4 linked regions of the Homo sapiens genome follow. The protein of the gene in region 2 interacts with the protein of the main gene of each other region in a biochemical or structural test. Each region holds a gene or a part of one and is shown on either strand. Other genes may lie near its edges.

Region 1 (5,153 bases), on a different chromosome or scaffold from region 2:
AGGGAGATTTTGAAATGCCCCCATAATGGGGAAGTATATTTTGGGAGACTCTTGTTATTATATTATCATTCATTTAACTCATTGCAGTAGCTTGTGAATTTCTTATAGGCAGAGATCATGATAAAAATCTCTTTTCTTAGGATCCAGGTAGAAGTGGCAAGTCAAAATTGGCCAGTAATTTATTCATTTATTACCCTCTATTCTGTGTAGTGAGAATATATATATACAATTTTTCAGTTACCTATCCTCACTTTGGTTGTGAAGAATTAGACTCCTCTCAAAGTGCTTTTTCTTTTCTTTTTTTAGAGACAGAATCTTGCTTTATTGCCCAGGCTGGAGTGCAGTGATATGATCATAGCTGACTGGAGCCTCAGCTTCCTGGGCTTAAGAGATGCTCCCACCTCAGCCCTCTAAGTAGCTGGGACTACAGGTGCACAACACCACACCTGGCTAATTTAAAAACAAAAATTGCAGAGACAAAGTCTTGCTATGTTGTCCAGGCTGGTCTTGAACTCCTGGCCTCAAGTGATCCTCACTCCTCAGCATCCCAAAGTGCTGGAATTAAAGGCATGAGCCACCACACCCAGTTCAAGGTACTTTAGAGAGTCACTTTGCTGAGCCTGTTGCTGTCAAGTGTATTTACATTTCATGTCTTGCTGCTACTGGCTCTTCCTCTCTGAACCCTTCCCAATAAGTGAAAAAAAAGAATAGAAAAAGGAGAAGATAGCCCTAGGTTCCATCTATACAATGTGAGCATCTGGCTCCCCGAATCATATTATTGAGAGAGCTTGTTAAAAATCCATTCCAGAGCCCCACGCCCTAGAGTCTGATTCAGTGTGTCTGAGGGGGAACCCCAGGTATTTGAAGCTTTCACAAGCACTTTAGGTAGTGTGGATACAAGTAGCCTGGGATATTGACTTTTAAAAACAGTGGAAAGATCCCAGGAAAAACCCAAGTTAGGCTAAAACCACTGAGGTTAGTGTGGTTGCAGGAAAAGCCGAATGTGTGTGGCTGCAGAGACACCTAAAACCACTAGGGGGACCAAAAAATTAAATTAGGAGGAACATAGAATCCTTGAACTGGAACCAAAAAGAGTAAAATTTGGTAGTAAAATGCACAATCCTATCTGAAAATATGTAATTTTTGCACTCCCAAATATTTGCATTCATATTATGAATTCACATTCTGACTTCAGAGAGAAGAAAATCAAGGTATTTCTGACCTCTTCCCTTCCCTACCCTTTCTTTCTTTCCTTCTTTCCTTCCTTCTTTCCTTCCTTCTTTCTTTCTTTCTTTCTCTTTCTTTCTTTCTTTCTTGAGATTAGAAGGAAGAAATCCACCAGAGTCAAAAAATATCCTAAAACACTTCAACTTAGGAGTTTGCTACACCCGCCATCACACTGTTCGTGGGGGGGAAAGTGTGCTAGTAAGGCAGAGAAAAACAAACATACCCATTAGAAAGATTGCATCTGAAGATGATATTCCATATTGCTGTTCTAGGTATTTAGGCATGAAGGAGATCATGTTAACGAATGCATTGAACTGTATCACACTTACAAGTATGAAAAGCATATAAATTGGATTGCAGGAAAGACTTTTCATGAAAGGTAGAAAATCTGAAATGAAAGAATGACAACTGTGTCAAACGAACTTGGCTTTGCATTTTGTGACTGGCTTTTCCTGAAACATCCACCTCCTCAACAAATTATGTTTTTTACTATTTTGTAATATGTATTGTTTGCTAATTCTTTTTTCCCCTTGAAAGCTGAAGTCATAGCAATGTTTTGGTGGCTTCTGGAAGTCAGTGATGTAGCTGACTGGGTAGGGATCAGAACACAACAGTTTTGCCCTCAATAAGTCACTGTTGAGTCTTAAAGATCAGTAAGCAAAACTACAAAGTGACCAAAATATTGTCTACGTCCACAGCATTTTATTACTAACCTTTTGTTCTTCTATTAATATATTCTTTTTTCTACAGCTCATTAGAATGAAAGATGCTTGTTCTGTTCTGTAAAGTCTGGAGGAAAATCGAGTTGATAAAGAAGATTTCACACAAATATTTATTTTATCACTCCCTGAACATTTGAAATAAAGATGTGTGGGAATTAATGAGATATGAATGTTCTCAAGTATCCGGAATTTTTTTTTGCTTCTTCAGAACAACAGTTTCAGTGGTTCTGCCATTGGTTCTCAGCAAGATCTACCTGGAGATATTTTTTAAAATACCAACATCCAGGTCCCATCCTCAGAGATGCTGATTCATTTGGTACATTCTAAGGACTATGTAAATGATTTAATCAAAAATGATTCCTGTTAGAAAAAGCACAGAGCCAAATGTGTGGCCTGCCTCTAGTAATGTTTGGCCTGCTTCTAGTAATGTGTGGCCTGCCTCTAGTAATGTGTGGCCTGCTTCTAGTAAATGTTCTTGGTCACACTGCTACCATTCAGGCTCAAGTTCTCACTTTTAATTTCCTTTCACTTTTCCTGTCCACATGTTCTCTGTCTTGACTTTCTTATGCACAATCTTGGTTTGCTTAATAAACTGCTCACAATTCATTCTGGAACAAAATTTCAATAAATAAACAATTTAGAAGAGGAGGACACACAGATTAATGCAAGTAAATGAGTTATAATTGTAAAATTTATATTTATGAATAGGGTACCTGACAGGAGAGAGAGTTATCTGAAGATTTTTAAGTCACCCATGTTTGTTGACATCCCTGTCCTAATAGATGAGTTTCAGTAGCACAAGTTTCTTTTCTATGTCTTGCAACAAGCTAAGCTCTTTCCTAATTTTGAAAATGGAACTGATCTTGCAGACTGCAAGAGGTCTATCAGTCCATAACAATCCTTTAAGAAGAGTTTTTAATATCATCAGAATGATTCTGAGAATTTGCAAGATTCTGAGTTGGCTCCTAATGACCAAAGATGTATTAAATTATGCTCAATTATGATTTAAGAGAATTTACAATTGTTAAGAAAAATTCTATGCAAATTGACATTGTAACTTATGGGTGATGATAGAAACAACAATGACAACATAAAAGTACTAACACTAGTATCAGTATTAATAATAATGTGTGCTAGAATGTCTTTTACCTTCACACAACAATTCTATAGTAAGTACTATTATTATCCCCATTTGACAGAAAACTGAGACCCTCACCATCCGTCAAATAAACATTTTTAAGTTCCAATAGCCAGGCTGCACATCCACACTAATTAAATCTGACCTTTTGGGAATACTACAGAACTTTCAGGCATCAATCATTTTTAAAATTTCCTAGGTGATTCCAATGTGCAGCCAAGTTTGAGCATCAGTGCTCTTGAGTACTAAATACTTAGGCTATCTTAGTTTAGTTTCCCACAGAAAAACCTTCTGTAAATTATACTTTGAGCTTTTATTGAGGTTCTGTACCAAAAAAAATGTTACATGCAATTTACCCTTTCATTTGCTGGAAAACCACTATGTGGCTCAATATTACCTGTATCATGTATCTTATGATCATTTTTAAATTTTTTTACAATTTCTTCCTTGGAGAACTGCTTCTGTTTAAAAATTATTATTCTTCCCTCTACCAAGTATAGAGAGGTGGGTCACCGATCATGTTTTTTTTTTTCTTTCTGATTTAACTTCCAGGAAGCTCTTCGTTAAACTAACACACTGGTTACAAAACTATACTACCTATTAAGATTAGAGTATACTTTTTCCTACTTTTGTTCTTAGTTTAAATTTGCTTGTTCATTTTGTTTCAATTCAACCTATGTTCTCTGTAAAATCGGTTTTTTGAGCAAATGGGACCATATATATACGTGTGTATATATATATATATATATACACACACACGTATATATATACACACACACATATACACACACATATATGTGTATATATATACGTGTATATATATATACGTGTGTGTATATATATATACGTGTATATATATATATACGTGTGTGTATATATATACATGACCCTCTCTCTCCTCTCTCTCATATATATATGTGTGTGTGTACATATATATGTGTATATATGTGTGTAGATATATGTGTGTGTACATATATATGTGTATATATGTGTGTATATATATATGTGTGTGTACATATATATGTGTGTGTATATATATATGAAAGAGAGAGAGAGAGGAGAGTGCCAAGACTGACATAAAAGTTTACACAAATGCTGATCTGAAATATTTCAGCTTCCAAATTATAATATTTATTTTCAAGTAGTACCATAGGAAGAATCGGACTAGTTAGGTATTCTTGACTGGTGACTGTTGATGACAAATTGTCTCAACACAGCATAGCATATCATAGTGTTAGACTAAAATACAGACATATCTATATGAAATAAAAGGTCAATTTCATAGTATTTAGAATATGTATATTTGCCTTTAGTGATTCCATATTTTTCCTTCTTGACCTCTTCTTTTTGTTTGTCTTCATTTTCATTTTTAATGATGTCAGCATTAGTCTCTAGTCCTTCCTTTGGAAGTGTGTTGGGCAAAAAGAAAAAAGGAATGGCAGTGAGCACGTTAACTCCTGCACAAATCAGAAAGCCAAACCACCATGCACCGACCCAACGAGTGTCAGTGGGAGTTATGATCAGATCATCTGTAAAAAAATACACACACTGTTATTAGCTTAAGTCAGTATTTTCTGTATGAACTATAGAAAATTATTAAAATTAGAATTATCGGGTCCCAACCAACTATAAAATTGGCTTATAATTCAGACACTGATAAAATTTTTCTAATAATATGTGGTGTTGTAATATTGTCTAGTAATAAATTAGGCTGGTTATCTGTCTATCATGTAAGGGATTTAAAAGCAGGTATTAACTAAACAGCTACAAGTTCTATTTCATCATCAACAAATGATTGCTTAAAGTTCTATTTCATCATCAACAAATGATTGCTTAATTGAAATAAATTCAAACCTACATGCTTAAATTTTGTAAAACCAAGAAATATAGTTGAAGTGCACTAGAAATAGCATGTGATTCTGTGTCAGATTAGCATTTTATTTTGCACTACTGCTTTCTGGTTTGGAATATTTTAAAAGTTATTTAAATTCCTCCACTAGAGTTTCTCACTTTTAAAGTAGAGATCATTTATCAAATTGAAGGTCAAGTAAGGCCATGATTATATA
Region 2 (5,153 bases):
CTGCCATTGTATTAGTTTATTTGCTCAACCCTAGAATATATATTAGTTTCAGAACTGTAAGCCCATACACTCCACCCAACAAACCTACTAATTAGAGTTTTATTTTGTTTACAGATCTGTCTTCAGCTTGTGTTAAAGAATCTCTGGGATTAAGACTTCTCCCCTCTTCAATGTAGTTAAGTTATTCATTTGAAATACAGGCAGGTTTATTGTACCCTAAAACTTAAAGTATAAAAAAAAAAAAAGAAATACAGTCAGGTTTATTTAGTTTCTACTTATGTATCATTTTGCTTTTCCCCCATCTTTCTTTGTTGCTTTTATTTTTGATTTTTTTAAATATGTAAAATACTAACATACTTTCTAAAAGTTAAAATAATACAAAAATGTATACTCAGAGAAATGTCATACCCCTCATCCTTTCCATCCCATTCCAAATTCCCTCTCTACATCACTCCCTCTGTAGGTAACCAACCTCATTAAGTTCTGATTTACCTTTCCTGTGCTTATTTTCACACAACTGAGCAGAGATTTGTATTTTCCCATTTTCTCTTATTTTATACCGTAGATATTCTTTTGCATGTTGTGTATCAGTTCAAATACCTTATTAACAGTTTTAGAGAACTTCATTTTGTGAATGTAAAATTAATTCAATCACTTTTATCTGGGCATTTAGATGATTTTCAGTATTTCACAATTATAAACAATGCTACAATGAATAAATACCCTTTTGCCCATGTATTTTCATACTGTTGGGGTATATCTTTGGAATAAATTCCTAGAAGTGGGATGCTGGGTTGAAGGAAAGCTGCTAGATATTGCCAAATACCCTTCCAAAAGGCAGTACCAGTTTGCATTTCCACCAGCAATGCACAACTGTTTTCTCTCAGTCTCACCAAGAAAATGTCTTCATATTTCTCCCTGAATCTGATAGGGGAGAAATTGAATTTAGAGTAGTCTTCTTAATTTACATTTTTTTTTTTTTTTTTTGAGATGGAGTCTTGCTCTGTTGCTCAGGCTGGAGTGCAGTGGCATGGTTTTGGCTCACTGCAATCTCCTGGGTTCAAGCGATTCTCCTGCCTCAGCCTCCTTAGCCAGGATTACAGGCATGCACCACCACGCCAAGTTAATTTTTGTATTTTTGGTAGAGATGGGGTTTTGCCATGTTGGCCAGGCTGGTCTTGAACTCCTGACCTCAGGTGATCTACCCACCTCAGCCTTCCACTGTGCCTGGCCTTATTTTTTTTTTTTTTTGAGGCAGAGTTTCACTCTTGTCACCCAGGTTGGAGTGCAACGGCACGACCTCGGCTCACTGCAACCTCCACCTCCCAGGTACAAGCAATTCTCCTGCCTCAGCCTCCTGAGAAGCTGGGATTAAGGCATGCACTGCCAAGCCTGGCTAATTTTTGTATGTTTAGTAGAGACGGGGTTTCACCATGTTGGCCAGGCTGGTCTTGAACTCCTAACCTCAGGTGATCCGCCTGCCTTGGCCTCCCAAAGCGCTGGGATTACAGGCGTGAGCCACCGCACCCGGCCTTTACATTTCTTTAATAATGACTACAGTTGAACGTCATTTCCTATGTACAAAGGCCATTTTATATCTTATTTTTGTGTGAACTATATATTCTGATCTTTTGTCCACTGTTTTTTTCTATTGGGTTTCTGGTCTCTGTTCCCTGTTTTTATGAGTTCTTTATATATTGGGAATATTAGCCCTTTTCTTGCAAATTTTTTCTGTCAGTTGTCTTTTGACATTGTTAATGGTGTTTTCCAATAGTTTTTGGAAAAAGTCTTTGGCCATAAAAAAAGTTTTTTAAAAATTTTAAGTGGTTAGATTTATTGATCTTTCTTTTTTTTTCTTTTTTTAAGAGCCAGGGTCTTGTTCTGTTGCCCAGGCTGGAGTTCAGTGGCATGCTCATAGCTCACTGCAGCCTCAAACTCCCAGGCTTCAGTGATTCTCTCAACTCAGCCTTCTCAGTAGCTAGGACTGTAAGGGTGCACTGCCACACCCGGCCCTTATCTCCTTTTAATATATGCTGGAGAGCTAGGCCTAAACAAAAGGTCTATCTCTAGCAAATGACCTGAAAATAACTTCTCTTACATTCATGTTATCATTTCTATTTTCACTTTCTTTGTTTACCTTATTTACCTGTTTTATCTTGTATGCACTTTCCTAAGCCATGGAAAATTAATTATTTAGGTAAGCAAATTCATCACATTAACAAAACTAATTAGTGCTGTATCTATCCTACCAGTCTTGCATACTGTCAAAGGCATATCTGATTAGAAGCTATATTCTGGGATTAGTCTGATGCTTACCTTTTCTGCTACTTCTCGTACAGACTGAACACTTGTTCCATATAGATGATTGTTATACTGGCCAGCTTCAATGAATTTATGTTCCTGGATATCTTTTTCCATCTGCTCTCTTGAAGTCACAAAATGATAATCTCTTCCATCTACCTCATAATCTCGTTTTGGTCTAGTTGTATCTTTAACAGAAAAAAACTTGGGAAAGTGTTTAATATTAAAAAAAAAACCACAATAAATCCATTTTCTACTTACATCGTTTTGTAAAGTTCAACAGAACAGATTAATTTAAATCTGAGAAAGGACAATAATATGGAGGATGGAAGAGTAACTGATAAAATAAGTACAAACCATTAAAAAATGGTTATATCTATTTTTCCCACACACAGTGACAGGAAATGTTAAGAGTAACAATTAAATGTTTTTGTTTGGTTTACTTACGAGGAACACAGGATCCAAATTTGTCAGGAAATTCTGAGATCAAGTCATCATTTATCCTGTCTTTCATAGGTCCCAATATGATCACTGGTCGAGTATAATTAACTATAAAGATAAACTGCATGTTAAAAGGAATAAACATTCAACAAATATCAATGTATTTTATTTCACCAGCGAACAAAAATATCCTTAACTGTTATGACTAATTTTTTTCTTCCCTCTCCATCTCACTCTACCATCAACCAAAGATGCGTAACTTGCTCTTTTATAATCTTGACTCAGATCTTAAACTTTACTTAGTCTTCTGCTAGAAGTCATATTGATAATTCAATCAAGTTAAATTTGGTGTTTTCGCAGATAATGTTTCTTTACATTGCAAATGACAGAATAAAGTCTAGTGTTTTACAGATGGCTTTGAAGTAGAAATTGTAAGGAAGCAGAGCAAAGAAGGGCAGAACAGAAACTGGATGTAGGAAGTGATATAATCCCAGTAGTAGCATTCTAGAAAGATGATCTAACAGAAGTGTAAACTCTGGGTGGTCTGGGATCATGCTGGAATAATGGAGATTGGTAGTGAGACTGAGAACTAACATTGTGATAGAAGGGATGAAAAGAAGGTCATAAATAAGAAAGAAGTGGGATAAACAGTGCCTGGAACCTAACTGGATGAGGAGGAGGAGGAGGAACAGAGAAGGCTCAAAGATACTTCCAAGATTTTCAAAAAAGGGTTATTTGGAAGATAGTGATGCTAACAAGAACACTGGAACAAAGTTGCTTGGGAAATAAAACACAAATATAAAAGTCAGTATGAAATGACTAGATTCTAATATTCTGTGGAGTAAACTATGTTTCATAAAACACATGTAGTAAATTTCTACATGTATATGTAGTAAAAAAAAATTTTAATACAACATTTTTTGGGGTATGAGAATTTTTTTCCCCCAAATTAAAAAGTATATTCTTCTAGAAGGTTATAAAACATCAATAGGCTTCACAAACCTTCTTGTTGATTCACTGGTTCATAAGATAAGACGTATTCTTCTTGACCACCTATTAGAAAGTGAAGGCACAGATGAAAAATGTGTAAAGATAATTGATGCTAATCTAATTCTTCATAAACAACATATACATTACTAGAACTTTCCTGAGAAAATGGCAAAGATATGGAAAGAGGTACTTTATGGCAAGATTTAGTTAAAAAAAAGTGTCAAATTATAAAGTCTTAAAAGTGAGTTTGCTAAATGTAAAACAAAATACAAATGGGCTATATAATCAATATTATATTTTATAGATAATCAAATCTAAAAATCTTCATTTGTGATGCTATGTGCTACTCCTTTATTTAGAATCTAAGAATTATTAAATCTGTTAAAGATTAATGCTTTAATGAGCAGATCTGTCTATCATCTATCTACGTATTAGGTAATTTGTTACTATTAAAAACATGCTACTTTTTTTGTTCCACCAACTACAATACTGAATACAGTATATTTTATTTTTAAAATAATTACATCTTAAAATTAAAAATTATAAATGCAAAGGTAAAACTACTGTTACTATTTCACTGATGAAAAATTCACTAACTCAACTTTGTAAAAAAATAATAAATTTAATGTGAGTCAAAAAGAGCTTTAGATAAAACTAAATCCTTCCAAGAAAATAAACAACAGTGATAGTAAAGGAGATAAATATATTTGCTTTGACCTTAAAAACACAAGAAGTTAAAGCTTCTAAAGGTTAAATTAAAGGTTCGGAGCTTAGGAAATACTCTAAATAAAAGAGTCTACAAATTATATCTGAATATCTGAATCCAGTGAAAAGAAATAAATAGTTAAAAACTCTGAGAGTTTTTTTTTTTTTTTTTTTTTTTGAGACGGAGTTTCGCTCTTGTTGCCTAGTCTGGAGTGCAATGGCATGATCTCAGCTCACTGCAGCCTCCAACTCCCGGGTTCAAGCGGTTCTCCTGCCTCAGCCTCCCAAGTAGCTGGGATTACAGGCATGTGCCATCATGCCCAGCTAATTTTGTATTTTTAGTAAAGATAGGGTTTCTCCACGTTGGTCAGGCTGGTCTCGAACTCCTGACCTCAGGTGATCTGCCCGCCTCGGCCTCCCAAAGTGCTGGGATTACAGGCGTGAGCCGCCGCGCCCGGCCAAAAACTCTAGGAGTTTTAAACTAACACACACACATCCCCCCTCACCCCCACGCCTAAAATTAGAAAAGACTGTGTTAACCCAAGTGGTTCAATGAAAGCAATCAATATTGGATAATGTATTTGAAGACTTTCTCTTTAATTATCAAGATCCTATAACAATTTTACCATGAATTTTGCAATTGGTTTATATTATATGTATGTAGCTGTAGGTCTTTTAAATCCATACATTGGCATAAACATTCTTTTCTGTTTTAG
Region 3 (5,153 bases), on a different chromosome or scaffold from region 2:
CTGGGTTTCGTCATGTTGGCCAGGCTGGTCTTGATCTCCTGACCTCAGATGATCTGCCTGCCTTGGCTTCCCAAAGTGCTGGGATTACAGGCGTGAGCCACCGCGCCTGGCCTAAAGCTATATTTTTTATTAGTTGTATTTCAAATTGCATAGTATGGTGGTAAAGAACATGCACTCCAATGCAGCACTCTGTGCTCTTACCAGCTGTGTGATCTTATACAGGTTAACACCTGTATTATGTCAGTTTACTCATCAGTGTTGGTGATAATCCCAATAAGAGTGCTTACCTCATAGAGGTTTAGGGAGAATTACATGTATAACACACTTAGTAAACTGAAGAAGCCATTGAAGCCTTTTGACATTGAATATCAGTTTGATTTGCATTTTAAAGAGAATGCATTGGATGGAGTATGGTGAATGGAAGGATTGGGGTGGGGGGAGTCAAACTGGGGAGACCAGTTAGAAGTTATTGGAGTAGTCCAGGCAATTGCTTGTGTAAGTACTTATTTTATATAGTTTATTGATAAATATACTCACATAATTACACATACACATATAACCACTGACAATTGCTTTTTACAGTTGTCACCTAATGATGCGATGTGTTCTGAGAAATGTGTCGTTAGGTGATTTTGTTATTGTGTGATCATAGAGTGTACTTACAGAAACCTAGATGGTAGAGCCTGCTGCACACCAAGGCTATATGGTGTAGCCTATTGCTCCTAGGCTACAAACCTATACAGCATGTTACTGTACTGGATACTGTAGGCAACGGTAAACAGTTGTAAGTATTTGTGTACCTAAACATATCTAAACATGGAAAAGGTACAGTAAAAACAGCACAAAAGATAAATGGTACACCTGTGTAGAAACATATCATGAGTGGAGCTTGCAGGACTAGAAGTTGCTCTGAGTGAGTCAGTGAGTGAGTGGTGAGTGAATGTGAAGGCCTGGGACATTACTGTATACTACTGTAGACTTTATCAACACTGTACACTTAGGCTACACTAAATTTATAAAACAATAAAGTTCTTGTGTTACAGCAGTACGGGCGTTATAGCATCACTAGATGATAAGAATTTTTCAGCTCCATTATAATCTGTGGGACCACTGATATGGTTCATTGTTGACCAAAATGTCATTATGCAGTGCATGACTGCATTTGAAATGTAGTTAATTAAATCTGATCAGGAATTTAAGAAAAATGGCTCTTTGGTTTTTAAGGAAAAAATTTTTTAATCATGTGTGCTGTGTTTTCAACTTTCTGTTCAGTTCCCAACCTATAAACATGAAACAGTAGCTCTTTTGGTTACTATGTATACCTTCTTTCAATGTTATTCTCTCTCCCACACGTAAGTTTATTTTCAGTATTTGTTTCCAGTGTTTCCAGAGTTTCCCTGAGTTGTCACCCTTAGAATGGTCATTTTACTTGATTTGATATTCAGAAGAGTGGCCTTCTAAGTTCCAAAGTGTGTGAGTGTATGCATGCATCGGGTGTGGGGGGAAAGAGAGAGAGAGAGAAGGAGAGAGAGAGAGAGAGGGAGGATGGATGGATGTGTGCTCAGATAAATGCCTGCTGACAGCAACACAAAACCCTACTCTATGAATCTTCAGGCCAGTGAATGGGTAGGAAATGCTCTCCAGTTTGAATTGTTCCTACATTTTATGAGCAGAGAAGCAAATCCTGTGAAAGTATTTCAAGAGCTGCCCTCTTAGCTGTCCATTGTCTTGGCTCAGAAAGTCCTAAGGAAGAATCCTTGTAAACTTAACAGACAGGAATTTTGGTTTTTACTGGAGAGCTCTGCTTTTCTTTATCGCATGTCATCAGCATCAAATTTTTATTTGTTTTGTTGGGTTTTCTGTTTTGTTGTAGTTGTCAAAATTTTCTACTGGGATAATTTAGGACGGGCTTGTCTTTATATTTGTAAGGAGTAAAAATGCATAACCTGGTCTGTCTTCTTTATGCTAGGTTTGTCCAATTTGCTTGCTTTCATTTTGTCAATGCAGTCACCTGCTGTTTTTACTCTTCGCTTTCTTCACATTGTGAAACTTCCTAAATACATACTATGGACAAAACCAAAGATAAAAATGAATGAATTGTTAAACACATTTTCTTATATGTCTAACTAAAAATAATATATGCTTAGGGTAAATTCAAACAGAGCAGTAAGTTTACAAAACAAGAAATAAGTCTCCTTTCCAGCCTTCCTGACTCCTTTGCTTCTCAGATAGACCATCCTTAAGTTTCCTGCAAATGGTTTCAGGAAATTAGAAAAGAAATAGTTCCAGTATATATAAGCATACTCTTATAATTTCTTTAGAAATAAAGATCACAATTTATTATGCTTACTGCTGTATACCTTCCAGAAAATCAAATCATATTATATATAGTGTTGTGCACCTTGCTCCAAAAAGTTATTTATGTTAGTAATTAAGGTACAACCTAAAGCTCAGTCTACAAGCAGGACAGAAGATAACATCTTATAGAGGCCTTTAAAATTGTTGCACCAAAATGCAGTGGGAGCTATTTTCTAACTAGAACCACCAAAAATAATGGAACAAAATGATTAGTAAAACAAAGGGAAATAAACTTCCAAACCAGTAACCAAATATGGAAAGGGAAAAATTCCAAGCAAGATCCAGTTAAAAAGTCCAAAGGAGAACGTGTGTGCACCCAGAGAGGACAGAGACACTAGCACCAGCTAAGATTCACAGACAAGTGCAAAGGGGTGCTATTTTTAAAGGAGACCAAAGAGGAAATAATGACCACAAATAAAAAGGGAACATGTCAAACTTCTGGGCAAGTGCTAAATTTGAAAAGAGAGAATGGTGTTTATGTTTTTTAAAAAATGCACTAGAGGGCTGGGCGCTGTGACTCACGCCTGTAATCCCAGCACTTTGGGAGGCCAAGACGGGTGGATCACCTGAGGTCAGGAGTTTGAAACCAGCCTAGCCAACGTGGTGAAACCCTGTATCTACTAAAAGTACAAAAAGTAGCTGGGCATGGTGGCATGCACCTGTAGTCCCAGCTACTCAGGAGGCTGAGGCATGAGAATCACTTGAACGTGGGAGGCGGAGGTTGCAATGAGCTGAGATTGTGCCACTGCACTCCAGCCTGGGCAACACAGCAAGATTCTGTCTCAAAAAAAAAAATTCACTAGATGCATTTTCAAATAGGAATGGATTTTGATCAGAAGCAGAACTGACACAATGGAATAAACAATAACTCAAGTATGCATTTGTCCAATAACTGAAACATGCAGCCATCTATGTCATAAAACATTAAAATTGTACCTAAGCATATTGGAGACATGAGATTATTGTACTGTCCATATAGTGCTTTTGGATCCAGAACAAGTCAGGTTCTTTTGTGCCGTGTGTTTGTGTGTGTGTGTGTGTGTGTGTGTGTAAACGAGTGAACATCTATGCCATTTTATCTAGATACAGTACTTCTTCCCAACCTCCATTCATCTCTGTTGTTGTTGCTATTGTTCCTCATATGGCCAAATGCAATTTCTCCCTGAAGGTCTAACTCCAAAATTCCTTGCGCCTTCTCTTAATTCTTTCCAACTCATCAATTCCTCAAAGCTGATGTCTACTGTATATTATACTCTGGTGCTTTTGGTATATTCTTTATTCTCTTATGGCACTTACTGAGCTGTACTGTTACAATTTTTCCATGTATATCTCTCTGTATTGTGAGCTTGCTGGAGGCAGAGACAACACATCTTTAGGTCGTTGGTACCTAGAGTACTGCCTGGCACATTTAATACTTGATTAAGTAGAATTACATAAGCTGGAATTTAATGTTTATTTGTTTTGTAGCTTCATAAAATTATATAACTTTTTAGCAATAAAAACCTCAAGACATATGTAAAATTAATAGTCTCAAATGAATGCATAATATTACTGCTCCTAAAACTCCCTCCTCCTCTTTTTAACAGTGGCCTCCCTAAGATATAAGGAAATATAAAGACTGGTCTGCCTTATAGGATTTTAAGAAATTTTCCAGATTTCCTGATGCCTCCTTATATCCTAAAAGCACATAAGTTCCTCTTGAATTAGTAAGCATTGATTAAAAACTCAGATGAGTCAAACAATACACCCCTCAAAAGTTGCTTAATCTAGACTAGAACAAAGCACGTATTAGTGTGTTCTCACGCTGCTGTAAAGGACTGCCCAAGACTGGGTAATTTACAAAGGAAAGAGGTTTAATTGACTCTCAGTTTCGCATGGCTGGGGAGGCCTCAGGAAACTTACAATCATGGCAGAAGGGGAAGCAAACACATTCTTCTTTACTTGATGGCCGGAAGCAGAAGTGCCGAGCAAAAGCGGGGAAAGCCCTTTATAAAATCATCAGATCTCATAAGAGCTCATTCACTATCATGAGAAAAGAAAGCATGGAGGTAACCACTTCCATGATTCAATTACCTGCCACCGTGTCTCTCCCACAACATGTGGGGATTATGGGAACTACAATTCAAGATGAGATTTGGGTGGCGACACAACCAAACCGTATTAGCATGTTAGTTGTAAAAGTTCTACTCTCTGGAGCAGGGAATCTCCAGACTTTCCCCTCATGGCCTAATCTCTTTGTTACTCAATTGATATAATAGCAATCTATATCCCATAATGAGCAAAAGTTTATTAAGAGAGATGAGACAATAGAGACTGTTTTAGTCTATTTCTGTTGCTGTAACAGAACACCTGAGACTGGGTAATTTATAAACAAAAGAGGTTTACTTGGCTCCCAGTTCTGGAGCCTGGGAAGTTCAACATTGGGCAGCTACCTCTGGCAAGGCCCTCATGCTACATTAAAGCATAGTGAATGGCATCACATGTGGAAACACCTGCAGGAGCAGCAAGCAAGTATGTGCAAAAGAGACAAAACACAAGTGATGGCCTCATTTTTTAACAACCTGCTCTTGCAGTTACTAATCTAGTCCCATGAGAACAAGAACTCATTTGCTTCTGTGAGAATTAACCCAGTCCTATGAGAATGGGACTAATATCTTCGTGAGGGTGGCAGAGTCTTCATGACCCAAACACCTCTTAAAGGTCCTACCACCTCTCAACACCATTATACTGGGAACTCAATTTCCTATACATGAATTCTGAGGAACACATTTAAACCATTGTAGAGCCTGATAAAG
Region 4 (5,153 bases), on a different chromosome or scaffold from region 2:
AGCCAGGCATGCTGGTGTGCACCTGTAGTCCCAGCTACTTGGGAGGCTGAGTTGGGAGGACTGCTTGAGCCCAGGAGTCTGAGGCTGTAGTGAGTCATTATTGTGCCACTGCACTCTAAGCTTGGGCAACAGAGTTAGACCCTATCTTGAAAAATAAAACAAAACCAAAACACTCCCCCATACTATATTTAGGAACTTTTTTTTTTTTTTTGGAGACAGAGTTTTGTTCTTGTTGTCCAGGCTGGAGTGCAATGGTGCGATCTTGGCTCACTGCAATCTCTGCCTCCCAGGTTCAAGCAATTCTCCTGCCTCAGCCTCCCGAGTAGCTGGGATTACAGGCATGCGCCATAATGCCTGGCTGATTTTGTATTTTTTTAGTAGAGACGGGGTTTCTCCATGTTGGACAGGCTGGTCAGGAACTCCCGACCTCAGGTGATTCGCCCGCCTCAGCCTCCCAAAGTGCTGGGATTACAGGTGTGAGCCACTGCACCCTGCCGGCAGGAACTTCTTACTTTTTAACAGAGATTCAAGGCATTTAAAGAAACAATTACTAATTACCATAAAATACCAAAGTAAAGACCATTTAATGTGTTCAGCAATTCATTTAAGAGCCTTTAAGAGAGCTTGTCAACATACCATCTGCTTCGCTATCTGCATCAGTCACATCTCCTAGTTTAGGATGGAATGGCTGCAAATTATGCCTCTGAGGCTGAGTTACAATCTTCGATGGAACACAGGCCACGAGGTTGCTACTGAGAGAAGCTGGTGGCAGTCTAGAGAGGCTGTTATGCATCATCTTTGACCTCTGCACTGCCACACTATAATCTGGAGGTTTTAGGTGTGTGTGGGGTCCTTCCTTTAGGTCCGCTAAAGAAATCCCCAAATATCCTGGAGGAGTGGGAGGTGGCTCCCTATACCTATCGTCCTTCTTGGGTGAGGTGACACAGTACACTGGCATGAAAAATAAGCAATGAAAATGTTAATGAAAAAGAAATGGAAAAAAAAAGAAACCACCCCACAAACTTATTACAATGACAAAATACAACTTAAAAATAGACAAAATGAATAAACTTGAATGATGGCAGATCAAAAACATTTTTTAAAAGTTTAATAAACAAACCTCTTTTTAAAATACATAAACAACTATATTAAGTCCTGTAAACATTAAATAGAACGAGAGAGTTGAAGGAGATGACACTGATGACAAGCTTCCTTCTGCAATTCAGCCCCCATATCACAGAAGTACATGACAACTCCTGAAGTCACACCAGCCCTAAAGATATCAGAAACATTTAAAAGTTCACCCTACACACCGATTCTCTGTAAACTGGGAGACTTTACATAGAAATGACATTTGGGCCATCTGTTTAAGGGCTGTTTCACCTTCTCTCTGAGACATGAACCAATGTTTTCTGGCACTCCTGGGCAGATTAGTTCTCAGTCCTAGCATATAAACTTTAACTTTGCTGGTACGGAGGAACTAATTCCTTCAAGAACTTTACTTCTGGCCAGGTGCGGTGGTTCACGCCTGTAATCCCAGCACTTTGGAGGCCGAAGTGGGTGGATCACCTGAGGTGAGAAGTTTGAGACCAGCCTGGCCAACATGAAGCCCCATCTCTACTAAAAATAAAAAAATTAGCTGGGCATGGTGGCAGGCACCTGTAATCCCAGCTACTTGGGAGGCTGAGAGAGGAGAATTGCTTGAACCTGGCAGGCGAAGGTTGCAGTGAGCCGAGGTCATGCCACTGCACTCCAGCCTGGGCAATACAGCAAGAGTCCATCTCAAAAAAAAAAAAAAAAGTTGGAAAAAAATGAATGAGCTAAAAACCCAACCTATAATGCAATTTGACAAGTAACTATAAAATCAGCACATTTCACCTTCACATTTTTAGTAGTTAAATGCGACACCATGACTGTTGCATAAATTTAACAGTTGATTATGATATTAATTCAAAGTAGAGTCATTCCATATAAGTAGAAAAGCAGTTTTATATCCACGTATTTATATAGTTTAGGAAAGAAATTTTTAAAAAGTATTTGATGGCCAAATACTAAAAAAAAAAGTTTACTAAGAAAGCTTGGAATGGAATTCACAAACAGGAGTTGGCACACTCATGATGTACACCAAGAGAGTATACTGAAAAATGTTCTGGACTTCCTGATTGCATTTTCTCTCACTGTTACGACCTAAAATCAATAGCAGATTCAATGTTTCTACCACGTATGCATACCAATTGTGGTCCAAACAATTTATGAGGTGATAAAGAGAATAATCCCTTTACTACTATTGCACACTAATGCGATGATATTCCTCAATAAAACCAAAAAGAACTTAAAAACAAAAGACAAACAAACTTGTCCCTCTAATTAAATACCTTCACATCAGACTTTTCATTTTAATGGGGTTGAATAGCTGCTCCAAAGTCTTTGAGAAACCATGAATTTTTGGGAAATAACTTGTTTGTTTGTGAAGGAAAGAAAGGTTGTTAGAGAATGAATTTTTGCGACGATAAAATCCAGGGCCAAGATATCCCAATGCCATTTTTTGACTACTTAATCTCTAAATGCCACAGACAACAAAAACACAACTTACCAATCAAGCCCTTTTCTGTACTTGAAGTGACAGTTTTATAAACTGGGTCAGTGGCATCCTTGGGGTCCAAGCCTTCAGATGACTCAGCTGGGGTGCTCTCCAATACTCTCTGTTTAACTGTCCCATAGTTTGGTTCATACGTGTCAGACAGAGAACTGGAGGAGGTCCAACTCTTTCTCTCTAGGCTTCCTTTACACTGCCCACAAGTTCTAGAGCAGCTTTTAGAACAGGAATAGGGCTCAGAGTCAGTGGGTTCAACTTCAGCAATGGGGTCATCCAAATGGGTATGTCTGTAAGAGTTCAAAAAATCCCAGCTTTTTGGGTTTGGAAGGCTTTGGAAGTTGTCATGGGAGCTGCTTGAACACGAAGTCCAACTTCCACGACCACTGTCAGCTGCTTCTATAATGATATGCTCTTGAGAAATCTCTTCATTGCTCACAGACGATGAGACAGCTAAACACTTGATTAGAGATGGCTTCAAGAGTGTCCACCTAAAATTGGAGATAACGTACAATTAGAAGGCTTGCCAGAAAAACTATCTTCTCTCTGTTTCAAGTTATTATTGCCTGTGAGAAACTACAGAGCACGTACCACAAGTGTTCATGCCAAATAACATCGTGAGGAAAACAATATTATCATCATTCATCACTATATTCCTTGTAAGTATTTAGTTAACACTCAGAAGACACAGTAAAGAAACTCTAATGCTTAGCAAAATTTCCTTAGAATTTTTCTTTTTAAATTTTAAAATGTTAGATATTTTTTTTTTTTTCGAGACAGGGTGTCACTCTGTTGCCCAGACCAGAGTGCAGTGGTTATTTACAGGCACGATCATGATGCACTGCAGCTTTTAACTCCTGGGCTCAAGTGATCCTCCCGCCTCAGCCTCCCCAGCAGCTGGGATGGACCAGAGGTATGCCTGGCAAGTATTTTTCTTGAACTGATTTTAAATGAAAATGTAAAGATGAGAGTTGAAATGAATAAGGTTAAGTATACATATTCATTTTTGGTCATCACAATATTAGACTACTGCGTCCATGCATACAGAATTAAGAGTTCCCAACTTGAAGAATCATGTTTTATTTTTCAACGTACCTCTGAGGTTAGCCCAGTACAGTGCCAAGTAAACAGCAACTTCCCCAATTACCCATGAAATGAATAATTTATAGCAGGGGTCCCCAAACTAAAGCTCATGGGCCAAATTTAGCCAACAGCCTATTTTTGTATGGTCTGGAGCAAAGAATAGTTCTGTTTTTTAACCTTTTAAAAGGTTAAAAAAGAAAAGAAAACAAAACCAAACCAGAAGAATTTGTGACAGAGACTATATGTAGATTGCAGAGGCGAAAATATTTACTACCCAGCCCTTCACAAAAAAAAGTTTGTAAACCCCTCATTTACAGTATAGTGCAGGGGGTAGCAAACTACAGCCCAGGGCCAAATCTGGTGGTCTCTTTGCTCGTTTTTGTAAATAAAGTTTTGGCTGGGCGTGGTGGCTCACGCCTGTAATCCCAGCACTTTGGGAGGCCGAGGCGGGCGGATCACGAGGTCAGGAGATCGAGACCATCCTGGCTAACATGGTGAAACCCTGTCTCTACTAAAAATACAAAAAATTAGCCGGGCGTGGTGGTGGGCGCCTGTAGTCCCAGCTACTCGGGAGGCTGAGGCAGGAGAACAGCGTGAACCCAGGAGGCGGAGCTTGCAGTGAGCCGAGATCGCGCCAGTGCACTCCAGCCTGGGCAACAAGAGTGACACTCTGTCTCACAGAGCGAGACTCCGCCTTAAAAAAAAAAAAAAGTTTTACTGGGACACAGTCATGCCATTTGTTTATGTGTTGTCTATGGCTATTCTGGTGTAATAGCAGAGTAGTTGTGACAGAGGCCTTATGGCCTGTGAAGTCTAAAATGTTTACTATGTAACTTTTATAGAAAACATTTGCTGACCTCTGGTGTAGAGATCCTAGTTTAGAAATCTTTATAAATGTGGTAATAATTTATCTTAAATTTTTCATATTAAAGTAGACCAGATTTCACAATATTTATCAGTTAGAATAAACTTTCTCAAAGATTTCCACGTTGCTTGATTCTAAATAGAAATTTAGAGTTGATTTTTTTTTTTAATTAACCTTTGCTAGGTGATTATTCTTACTCCCCAAATTACACTTTCAGAGGACAGAGATCAAGGGCTAGTCCTACTCTCCCAACCTGTCTACAATGTGCACAGCACTCGAGGCACTTTCCAAAACACAACCTTTTTGATTAACCTATAGCCAGAATTTCAAAAATTATCTCCCCTATATAAGTAGCAGATGCACTTTGAGTTCTGACTGGAAAGATACATAATGATAAAAAGTTACTTGAATTTAGTAACACTTTAAAAATGAACACCCATACATCTTTCAACATAGTGCTTATTTACATATTCAGAATAGAGAATATGTGCTTGGCCCACATATTCTTTTATGGATAACTCTGCAATTACCCCATGGGAGGTCCAAGGTCAAGGTGGGGAGCACTCCTTGCAGTGGCCACTTGGCTTGGGTTTTGTGTTATGAACACAGACA

What was found. The genes of interacting proteins can lie anywhere in the genome.
Region 1: the proteins of DLG1 (region 2) and SLCO1A2 interact in a test that uses a peptide from one of them, tested with the Homo sapiens proteins (one large-scale study listed by IntAct).
Region 3: the proteins of DLG1 (region 2) and JAM2 interact in a test that uses a peptide from one of them, tested with the Homo sapiens proteins (one large-scale study listed by IntAct).
Region 4: the proteins of DLG1 (region 2) and RAPGEF6 interact in a test that uses a peptide from one of them, tested with the Homo sapiens proteins (one large-scale study listed by IntAct).

Annotation. Positions count from the first base shown.
Region 1 is NC_000012.12:21,295,954-21,301,106, forward strand, and holds part of SLCO1A2 (solute carrier organic anion transporter family member 1A2), read right to left. Parts: intron 4,617-5,153; coding exon 4,395-4,616; intron 1,616-4,394; coding exon 1,451-1,615; intron 1-1,450. UniProt on the Homo sapiens protein: Na(+)-independent transporter that mediates the cellular uptake of a broad range of organic anions such as the endogenous bile salts cholate and deoxycholate, either in their unconjugated or conjugated forms (taurocholate and glycocholate), at the plasmam membrane.
Region 2 is NC_000003.12:197,062,960-197,068,112, forward strand, and holds part of DLG1 (disks large homolog 1), read right to left. Parts: intron 3,796-5,153; coding exon 3,745-3,795; intron 2,851-3,744; coding exon 2,749-2,850; intron 2,506-2,748; coding exon of another isoform or gene 2,492-2,505; exon of another isoform or gene 2,490-2,491; coding exon 2,317-2,489; intron 1-2,316. UniProt on the Homo sapiens protein: Essential multidomain scaffolding protein required for normal development. Recruits channels, receptors and signaling molecules to discrete plasma membrane domains in polarized cells.
Region 3 is NC_000021.9:25,645,069-25,650,221, forward strand, and holds part of JAM2 (junctional adhesion molecule B isoform 1 precursor), read left to right. Parts: exon of another isoform or gene 1-2,064; intron 2,065-5,153. UniProt on the Homo sapiens protein: Junctional adhesion protein that mediates heterotypic cell-cell interactions with its cognate receptor JAM3 to regulate different cellular processes. Plays a role in homing and mobilization of hematopoietic stem and progenitor cells within the bone marrow.
Region 4 is NC_000005.10:131,428,266-131,433,418, forward strand, and holds part of RAPGEF6 (rap guanine nucleotide exchange factor 6), read right to left. Parts: intron 3,085-5,153; coding exon 2,594-3,084; intron 952-2,593; coding exon 637-951; intron 1-636. UniProt on the Homo sapiens protein: Guanine nucleotide exchange factor (GEF) for Rap1A, Rap2A and M-Ras GTPases. Does not interact with cAMP.